3 linked regions of the Homo sapiens genome follow. The protein of the gene in region 1 interacts with the protein of each later gene in a pairwise test. Each region holds a gene or a part of one and is shown in the gene's direction. Other genes may lie near its edges. The genes, in order: SFXN1, TLCD4 and STOM.

What was found.
Region 2: the proteins of SFXN1 (region 1) and TLCD4 interact in binary tests that used the Homo sapiens proteins (3 or more experiments, as listed by UniProt).
Region 3: the proteins of SFXN1 (region 1) and STOM interact in binary tests that used the Homo sapiens proteins (3 or more experiments, as listed by UniProt).

Annotation. Positions count from the first base shown.
Region 1 is NC_000005.10:175,509,560-175,513,059, forward strand, and holds part of SFXN1 (sideroflexin-1), read left to right. Parts: intron 1-549; coding exon 550-648; intron 649-1,891; coding exon 1,892-1,967; intron 1,968-2,551; coding exon 2,552-2,637; intron 2,638-3,500. UniProt on the Homo sapiens protein: Amino acid transporter importing serine, an essential substrate of the mitochondrial branch of the one-carbon pathway, into mitochondria.
Region 2 is NC_000001.11:95,144,732-95,148,465, forward strand, and holds part of TLCD4 (TLC domain-containing protein 4), read left to right. Parts: intron 1-3,734.
Region 3 is NC_000009.12:121,353,043-121,356,776, reverse strand, and holds part of STOM (stomatin), read left to right. Parts: intron 1-620; coding exon 621-724; intron 725-2,103; coding exon 2,104-2,176; intron 2,177-3,474; coding exon 3,475-3,557; intron 3,558-3,734. UniProt on the Homo sapiens protein: Regulates ion channel activity and transmembrane ion transport. Regulates ASIC2 and ASIC3 channel activity.

The DNA of each region.
Region 1 (3,500 bases):
TAGTTGTTCAAAAGGAGGTTGAATTTTTTTTCTAAATCTTAGCCCCAAAAGAGAATGAAGTGGAGAAGGAAAATAAAGAGTCTGCAGGCAAATTCTCCTTTGACTCCATTCATATAGATATAGGTATAGGTATAAGTGTAGATATAGGCACATTAAAGGTGTATGTGTAGACATAGACATATAGCATTGCAAGTGCTGTTAGGAGGGCCCAGGACCGCTTAGCCTACAAATTGTATCTTTTTTCCCCAAGAGAAGGGATCTGGCATTTATTGAATGTCTATTCTGTACCAGGCTCTCTACAAATTTTATCTTACTTCATCCTCATAGTAACCCTCTGAGCTTGGTGTTATCTATATCTACGGAATGAGGAAACTGATGATCCCAGAGGATAAAAGCTTGCCCAGCACACAGATCCTAAGCCTGTGTGGCCTTATGGCTTTCTCCCTTCCCCAGTACGTCTCCTCTCTGGTTACTGGTGTTCACGTTTTCTGTTCCATGCCGCGGCTGGGCCCAGTGATGGTGGGTATGTGACGGATGCCTCTGTTTTAGGACTACGCCGGCTGTGCTGTTCTGGCAGTGGATTAACCAGTCCTTCAATGCCGTCGTCAATTACACCAACAGAAGTGGAGACGCACCCCTCACTGTCAAGTAAGGCTACGAGAATTGACCACTCTCTGCAGTTCTTCAACCTTCATTTTATTAAGTGGTGATACTCTCCTGTTTAAAAAAGCCTATGTGTGCATATTTTTATATTGTTCAGAATATTATGTAGCATCCTTTTTTGTAGCTTTTTTCTTTTTTAAAGTAAAGTGTTTCATTTTCTCTCTCCCTATCAAGAAAACAGTCTTCTTCCAGCCTGCCTTCTCAGACATTACTCGTGCCTTTGGAGGTACTGGTAGGATGTTACCTCCTTCTCACCCTGGAGCTCATGGCCCTGTAGAACACATGGCAGGCAGCACCGGCCTGGCCTCTGATAAGTGACAGGCTGTTCCGCCATCTACCCTGCCTGAGTTGACAGACACCAACGTTAAGAGTAGAGGAGACAAAGTGTGGTCTCTGCAGAAATCAAGGGGAGACCATGGCGGTGTGAACTTTATATCTGATATGTTTTTAAAATAGCTCATCTGTGGAGTCCAAAAGAAAGCAATGAGTTTTAATTTTTTGTCACCTGTTAAAAAAAAAATAGGCTCACAAGATTAGTTAACCAAAAACGTTAGTTAGCATAATTGTATTACACTTGAAAGAAAAGTGCTTCTCTTTTTTATCACTTAAAATTGCTTTTGACAACACATATTCTTCTACTATTGTTATATGGAACAAAGGATCTTGAAATCTGCAGCCAAGTGGTGTTTATTGCAATTAAAATTTCTTTTAAAAGAAGAGAGAATTGCTTGGGCTTTATAGTTTTTGGATGATAAGACTTAGTATTTTTATACAGTTAAGATATCATTTTTTAAATGGCAGCACTTCATTTTTGCTTTCAGTGTGTATATTAATATTTTGAGAAATATTTTTAAGCAAATATGCCCCAAACATTTAGCCCAATATGCATTCCCCTGTATTCATAGCTTCCTACACACAGCTCCCCTCCTTCTCACGAATACAAAGTCTGTATGTTTATTTATTTATTTTAACCAACTCACTTCAAAGAATACATGTCTACTTTTTTGGAGTTATAGTCAAGATACGTGTGAAGAATCCCATTGTTTATGGATCTGCTTGCTTTTTCTCTAGATTCCCCTACTTGTGGAGTGATAGTGAATGTTGTTTTGTAGACTCTTCATTCTGAATCATGCTCTTTTATATTTCCCTTTTATTTCTTCAAATAATGTTGCACCAGAGTTTCCTGACATGCCCTCGTCGTCCACACGATATCCTTTTTTCTTTTCAGTGAGTTGGGAACAGCTTACGTTTCTGCAACAACTGGTGCCGTAGCAACAGCTCTAGGACTCAATGCATTGACCAAGGTACTCAGATTTTTATTTCCATAATAAAGCTGTTTAATTTGTTATCACCTGCCTGGCTCTAAATCCCTCTATTATTTCTTAAACTAGTTCAAGTCATATGGCTTTCTTGTTATAGTGCTTATCTTCAGCTGCATATTTTAGTTATATCTTCCAATAAGTTTGGGAAGAGTTGTCACCAGTAACACCTACCAGGACTGTGGTCTGTGCCTGACTCTGTGTACGAAGTGCTAAATGTTCACCCATCCTGACAGCCCACCAGAGGCATTGCAGAGGGCAGTGTGCCTCAGGCCACAGCTCTGAAGAGAGGCAAGAGCATCTCTCTCTCTCTCTCTCTCTCCCCACTCCAAAGCCCATACTCCTGCAACCACACTTAGCTACAAGGCCTTAGAAGCTTGCATGGTCCCAGCACACCCATGTGGGAAATATACAAATACTGCTAGGAAAAGTTTTGAAAGCATTCTTGGCCTGAGTTTCTATGCAAATGGGACTCTGCATTTTTCAGAGTTTTCAAGAAGAAATAAGTTATTTCCATTTACTAGTACAGGAAAAATAAGATAAAGCTCTTGAAATTTTCTCCTCTGCAGCATGTCTCACCACTGATAGGACGTTTTGTTCCCTTTGCTGCCGTAGCTGCTGCTAATTGCATTAATATTCCATTAATGAGGCAAAGGTAAGACGAATATGCACTCTTAGTAGGGACATGTGCTTGACAGGAGAGTCTCTTGTAATAATTAGCTTTGTTGAAACTTTCAAATGCTTGTTTTAATATGTATAGGTGAAATTATATGAGATCTTGGATTTCTTTTGAAATACTCTGGGGTTGGGGATGAGGATGGGCGTCTTGAGAAAACAAGCTTAGCGATGAGTTACTGATTATTGAAGCAGACTGAGGAGTGCGGGGAGGGGGCTGATGCTGGAATAGTCTTTCTATGTCCGTATAATAAAAAGTTTAAAAGATATATCTCAAGCTTACATTGAGTTGTGCTTGGGTTGGACAAAGTCTATCCAAAGAAAGTTTATTCTCTAAAATAGATTCCTTTTTTTTCTCCAGAATTTTCTTTTGGGGCTTAAAGTACATTATTCTATATCTTTGGAAGTATTGTTGTAGAACTGGCAAAAATTAAAGGAGAAGAAAGAACAACAAAAGCATTTTGGAATGGATAACGAAAAACAGGGGTAACGGTAGAAGTTATACTTAGTGTTAGTAAATATAGTTAATAAATATACAGTAGGGCCATGTGCGAGTGACTGTTTCCATGTCAGCATATTAAGTTTGTTGACTTAATAATGCTGTGTATTATATCTGTTTCTCATTTGGAAAGTTGCTCAAATTTGCACATGAGCATAGATTGAAGTTAGTGTGTCCACCCTTTGAATCATATTGTTCCTGAAAAAGGTACACCCTGTTTTAAAAGTTTACTAGTGTTGTTTTACTTTTATTTCTATCAAAGGAGGATTAAACTTATCCATGGTATTTAAAAATAGATGTGTCTGCTGGGCGCAGTGGCTCACACCTGTAATCTCAGCACTTTG
Region 2 (3,734 bases), on another chromosome or scaffold:
CCAGGCTGGAGTGCAGTGGTGAAATCTTGGCTCGCTGCAACCTCTGCCTCCCAGGTTCCAGTGATTCTCCTGCCTCAGCTTCCTGAGTAGCTGGGATTACAGGCATGCGCCACCATGCCAAGCTAATTTTTGTGTTTTTAGTAGAGACAGGGTTTCACTAGGTTGGCCAGGCTGGTCTTGAACTCCTGACCTCAGGTGATCCACCCACCTTGCCCTCCCAAAGTGCTGGGATTACAGGCATGAGCCACTGCACCCTGCCAGAGTTTTAAAAAGTTGGTTGCAATTTTTTTGTGTGTGTACAACTTATTAATCTCACAAGATTTCAAACACAAAATGGCTCTGATGACTTCTTCACGTGCTTTAGAGCATTTTATGTCCCCAAACATCACTGTGCATTTGTAAACCTCAGTGAGTCAGAGCAGCCGTGGCCTTATTTTTTGTTGTTGCTATTTAGTTGAAGTTAATACTAACCATAAAATGGATTCAGCAAGTCTCTAAAGTTTGCTATAATTATCTTTCATTGAAATTTCCTTTTAAAATTCAAGAAATTCTGTCAGTGTCTGAGTATTTATTTGAGAATGGTCATATTTGATTTGAAATTCCCTTTGAACCAAATTGTTTTGCAGGCATCTACTTTTATGATTCAGACTGTGAATTTAATAAGACTCTAGTTGTTTTTTTTTGTACTTTACAGTGATGTATCGGGTTCATACATGTCAAAGTTCTTTTCACCCAAAAAGCAAGAATTATTTCTCCACATATTTTCAAAAAATAAGCAGTATGATTATTTTGTCTTAAGACTAGCACAAAAATATTGTTCAAATGCATTATACTAGAGATACCATTACTTTAAAAAATCTTTTCTAACATATGAAGATAGATGGAATGGTAGGAAAGAGAAGGGGGTACATACGTTCTCTGATTAAATGTTGAACTATTTTCATTTCCTCTTTCCTGTGGTTAGGATAGGTAAAGGCATTTGAATGTTAGGTAGCTGCAAGTCAGAGAAATAGGAAAGGGTACAGAGAGATGGAAGCCAAGATGAAAATGAAATGAAATTGAAGAATATTTTGCATTATCTAGTCTTATCACTGCCATTCTATGACACAGGAAATACCATTTGGGAAACTGAATTTCTATTTGAAAAAGGAGTCTGGGATTATATAAAATTCATTTAGGTATTCAGTGGTGTTTTCTCTTTTTCTCAAGTTTGCTCCTGCTTCTCACTCCAGCTTTTTTTACAAAGGACTTAAGCTGTAAGGTGGAGAGTGCAAAGTAGGACAAGGAGGCTGTATTTTGAGTAAAATATGTATAAATGTCTTAAAATTCAGCTTCCAGTTTGAAACATACAGGTAAACACACATAATTCTTTCTAGTGATCAGGAAAGAGTCTCTAAACATGAGTTGAGAGTGGTCTGAGCCATCTAGTATAAAAAGAAATGGAGGAGAAAAAATCACTGGAAATGCCCATTTGAGAGACAACAGTTTAGTTAAAAGTGAGAAATTGTTGTACTGAATTGTTACTTTTTCTGAAAACGTGTATACTTACAGGTGCTACATCTTATAATGTAAAAAAATTTTCTTAATTACTTATATTCACTTTCTTACCTATCACATTGAAAGTCTTATTGTGTTGAAATACTACTAATTTTTAAATGTTTCTCTAAAATTTAGCTGAGTTATATAATTTCTGTTGGCAATATTTACACTACTTGTGATTAGTAACTTAAAATTGCTATTCTAAAATAGTCATTAATCATTTCCTTAGAGTGCTATCCCTTTATATGCACAAACATTTCTTTTCCACCCTCTTTGAAAAAAAATTGAAATATTTTATCTTGGGTAATATCTTGGAATTTCTTTTTAGATACTAAGGAATCTAAATTTTCCTTTGCTAGGAATCTGATTTTAAATAATAAAATATAAAATTTTTATTAACAGAAGTTTCTGAAACTATAGTATAGACTTTTAATACAGAATAGTGTATGAGTGAGGGCAGGGTATTTGTTTTTCCTCCTCATTACAGAGGGAGATATTTGATTGGACCAAGTAATATTTAACTTTTCTGTACTGAATCATACACCATTTCCATCAGCTGAGGGCTTAGAATGCTTTCCATTTACCACATAACATCTCAAAAGAGAAGTGAATCTGAGGCCTGAGTGTCAGAAATAAAAAGTTAGGTTTTTCAAAAGGGAGCTTTCTGACTATGGTTACCAAACAGTAAAACAAGTTTGTAAGAGAGATTATATATTTTTAAATTTTATATAATTTTTGAATAGCAATAGAGAGTGGGCTGTATGACCATTTAAATGGAGTATTTTATTTTATATCAAGGAATTTAATTTTTTTTTTTTTTTGAGACAGAGTGTCGCTCTGTTGCCCAGGCTGGAGTACAGTGGTGCAATCTCCACTCACTGAAACCTTTGCCTCCCAGGTTCAAGTGATTCTTGTGCCTCAGCCTCCCGAGTAGCTGGGATTACAGGTGTGTACCACCATACCCAGCTAATTTTTGTATTTTTGGTAGAGATGGAATTTCACCATGTTGACCAGGCTGGTCTCAAACTCCTGACCTCAGGTGACCCGCCCACCTTGGCCTCCCAAAGTGCTGGGATTACAGGTGTGAGCCACCATGCCCGGCCAAGGAATTTACATTTTTATCCTGTGCTCAAGGTGTGCTTGGCATGAAAATTATAGACTTGTAAACCAGATAAATTGGATTAATTATTCACATTTCAAAATGATTCTTAGGTATTATAAATGATACTTGGTCAATGCCTTTAAATTGGTGAGAATCTTTGCTTATTTAAAATATGGCTTGATTTAGCATGATACATCTATTTTGTAACACACTATTAGGTCAAGTATATTGGTTTCTAAAGTTACAATGAAATTTTCTGATACCAAACCTAATATTAGTTGATATATTTTACTTTTAAAGATTTGGGATCATATTGTAGAGAAAAATTTATTGCACACCAGTAATTTTTAGAGAGAAAACTTTGCTGTACCTCTCATTTTTTATCCTAATGAAGTTTCATTACTTGTGAACTTCTCAATAAAGATGTGAGAAATCTGAAATTGTTGGGTAAAAAAACTTTATTGTATGGATGAATACACAGTATCCTAAGTATAGTTCTCTAAGTAACATAGAGCTTGGGAATTAGTCACATCATTAAATTTATTAACAAGATATATTCATAGAAACTTATGGTTTTTATGTTAAACTTATTCCTTCTATACAAGAAAACTTGACCTGGATCTTGAGAACATTGTGCTTTCACTTGGGTATTTCTTTTAAAAACAAATTTTCCGTATACATTTATGGTCCTCAATTTTTCTATTTAGAAATGTTTTCATAATAATGATAAAGAGGGACTAATAATAGCTACCCTTGTTTTCTTACAAATTTGTTACAAGAATCAAGTGCAATAGTGCATGTCAACGTACTTTAAAAACTGAAGCCTCCCAAGATAATAAATCTTCATATCATGATCCATTCGAATTGTTTTAAGGATATGGAGTTTGTTAAAGCCAGTAGATCTGGAAGTCATTCCCAGCTGATTGGAGCAGGAAACTTATCCTGCATTGATGCTGTTGGGGCTGGAGCTTGGAGCCAAGGGTAGTGGCCTTGCCAGTTGCCATCTGGCTGCACAAAAGTCTGTCAGCTGCATCATCATGTATGCATTTATCTGTCTTAGAACTTTTAACCAATAAGTGATTCACCAGTTCTC
Region 3 (3,734 bases), on another chromosome or scaffold:
TCTTGACCTCAAGTGATCCACCTGTCTCGGCCTCCCAAAGTGCTGGGATTACAGGCGTGAGCCACGACGCCCAGCCTCCACTTTCTTTTCGTCGATATTTTCTTACTATTACATCCTTCAGGAAACCCTCTGACAGCCACCTGAATCACCTCCCCGCCCCATTCCTTTCTCACCTCCATCCTAACTGCGTGAGTTAACTCATTCTGTGTCTTCAAAATATTCTGAACAGATACTCTATATCTGTACTTACCACCTAATATTATAATTATGTGTTTGTCTGACTTTCCCACTAAACTTTAACCCTGAAAGCTGGGATTGGGTCTTACTCATTGTTATCATTTCAGTACAAAGCAGAGGGCCTAATAAATAGTAGATGCTTAATAAATGTTTGCTGAATAAAGTAATGAGTAATGTGGAAATATACTTGTGTTATGACATCACATAGATAAGGGAAAGTAGTACTTACACTTCAGGGCTGTATGAGGATTAGATGGGGAAATTCATGTAAAACAGCTGGTGTAGTGCCAAGCACATAGGTATTCAGCGAATGGTAAGGATGAAGATGGTGGTGATTATGCTAGTAACAGTTGTGAGAGTTGTATATTTTTTGTTTTCAACAGACAGCCCCAGTAAGGGCCTTGGACCTTGCGGATGGATTTTGGTGGCGTTCTCATTCTTATTCACCGTTATAACTTTCCCAATCTCAATATGGATGTGCATAAAGGTAAAGAACATTTCATTCACTTCTGGGAAGGGGTCAACTCCTACCTCCATAAACCTACTTCGTGTGTGCCTGTGTGTATGTGAGAAAGAAACAGACTGTCTCTCTCTCTTATAATTCTTATTTCTTCATCTTTCTTTGGAAAATTTATTCTTCTACCCACCTATTAAAATGGAACCTTAAAACTTCTTTTCAGCCATTGCCCTTCCCCGTGGGCTAAAGTAAGTTTCACCATCAAAAATTTCCTGGGGCCAGGGATGTGAGATGGTTCTGAGAGAACAAGTTCTTCAGAGTTAGGATGATAGGGTTTGACTGCTGGCTTTACTGTTTATTGTGTGACCTTTGCTGTTTCCTCACCTGTAAAATGGGAGAAAGTAACAGTACCTACTTCATAGGAGTGTTGCGAGGATTAAATGAATTATGTGTCTAAATGTACTTATCACAATGCCTGGCACGTCATAAATACCCTCAGTGCTCGTTATTTTTTCTACAAAGTTGTTAATACTTTGATATATGACTATTATTTACATATTTCTAAGAAGATAAAATATGCTCCAAGCATTTTCAGATCAATTTATTCTTAAGGGAATCAGAAGAAAAACTGTGAAGACTTCAGCTTTTTGTGTTTCTGAATTAACAATGCATGAGTAATTTTTTTTTTTTTTTTTGAGCCAGAGCCTTGCTCTGTCGCCCAGGCTGGAGTGCAGTGGCGCGATCTCGGCTCACTGCAACCTCCGCCTCCCAGGTTCAAGCGATTCTTCTGCCTCAGCCTCCCGTGTAGCTGGGATTATTATTATTATTATTATTTTTTTTTTTTTTTTTTTGAGACGGAGTCACCTTGTGGCCCAGGCTGGAGTGCAGTGGTGCGATCTCGGTTCAAGTGATTCTCCTGTCTCATCCTCCCTTGTAGCTTGGATTATAGGCACCCACCACCATACCCGGATAATTTTTGTATTTTTAGTAGAAACAGGGTTTCACCATGTTGGCCAGGCTGGTCTTGAACTCCTAACCTCCGTGATCTGCCCACCTCGGCCTTCCAAAATGCTGAAATTACAGGCGTGAGCCACCGTGCCTGGCCTGCATGAGTAACTGAATAACAATGTTAACAGCTGAGGAGTGAGGTTATGGATTTGTTTCTGTATACTATTCTGTCCTTCCTAAATTTATACAGTGAATATCTATTGCTTTTGTAATCAGTAAGAAAATAATAAATAAGCTTTGAGAAGGTAAACATTGGACATGTGATTTATAGATATGATCTGGTTCTAAAGAAAAAAGATGAGGCATCTAATCTGTTTAGAGCAGAAATATATATTTAAGAAGCCATGCATGTATATATTTGTACTCTTCATGTTAAATTATTATTCATGTTTTTATTCTAGATTATAAAAGAGTATGAAAGAGCCATCATCTTTAGATTGGGTCGCATTTTACAAGGAGGAGCCAAAGGACCTGGTCAGTACTGGGATTCTAGATTGTTTATCTGAAAACTAAAGTTCTTTTTATTTTTTTTATTTTTAGGTAGTTGTTTTTTTAAAGACAGGGTTTCATTCCGTCGCCCAGGCTGGAGTACAGTGGCATGCTCATGTCTCACTGCAGCCTTGAACTCCTGACCTCAAGCAATCATCCCACCCCAGCTTCCCAAAGCACTAGGATTACAGACGTGAGCCACCGTGCCCAGTCTAAAATTTTTTTATTGACGTGATTTCCCTTATGAGGGCCTCTTCTACTCTGTCTTAGATAAGAGTTCATGTAGCAGGAGTTGTATAACAATAGCAGTGGTTCTAGCCAATCTTTTGTTACCCTTTCCTTCCTACCCTTCCCCTCCCCTTCCCATTTGAGCTGATAAGATTACCACCTAGGCCAAGAACAGTACAGCTATACAAGTTTGAGCATGAGAATCTCTACCAAAGAAAGACTTTCAGTCATTCATTTGGCAAACTTCAATTAAGCTCCTACTGTGTTCCAGGTTCTGGGAATTCAAGGGAGACTAAAACACAGTCCCTACCCTCAAGGATCTTCCTATCTAGTGGTAGGAACCAACAAGGAAACAGATAGCTACAATCCTATGTGATAAGTATTATGATCAAGTACTCACAGAGAGCTGTGAGAAAAGAGAAAACCAGAGAAGTGTTACTGATCTGAACTAGTCGTAGGCTGAGTCAAGGCTTTCTGGAAGTTACATCTTGACTGAGTCTTGAGGTCTGAAAAGGTGTTAACCAACAGGAGGTGTTTGCGGCGGAAATAGCAACATACACAAAGCAACAAAGAGGAGAGTATTGCAGATTCAAGAAACTGCAAGTAGATCAGTCCAGCAAGAGTGCAGGGTGTGAAGAGAGAGGAAGTGGCTGAAGAGGGGAACAAAGGCGGGTTATGCAGGACCATGCGTGGGGGAGGGTTTGTATTTTAGGGGGGATTGCTCGGCTTGCAGCTTAGGAAATAGATTATAGGAGAGAAACTACAAAAAATAGAAAGATGGCCTGGGAAACGATTGCATTGGTCCCAGTGGGGCGGTGGGGAGAAGAGTGATAGCAACAGTAGATTAAGGAAATGAACTCCACAGACCTTAGTGGAGACAGTCAAATGTGGGAAGTAAGCAAGAGGAATCAAAGTTATCATTCCTGGCTTCTGGCTCATTCACGAAGATGAACTGGTGACTTTTCAGTTCACTAGGTTGATTTTCTTAAAACTGAATGGAGAAGTGAACTGATTAGGTTGCTGGTGTCTGTATAATGTGTGTATCTTTGTTGCAGGTTTGTTTTTTATTCTGCCATGCACTGACAGCTTCATCAAAGTGGACATGAGAACTATTTCATTTGATATTCCTCCTCAGGAGGTAAGGTTTTCTTTGAATAACTGAGGTATCATATGTGAAAGTGCTTTACAATGAGGGACAGAATAGTTAGAGTGTAGGCTTTATTTATTTATTTATTTTAAATTTTTGTTTGTTTGTTTGTTTGTTTTAATTGGAATCTTGCTCTGTCACCCAGGCTGAAGTGCAGTAGTGTGATCT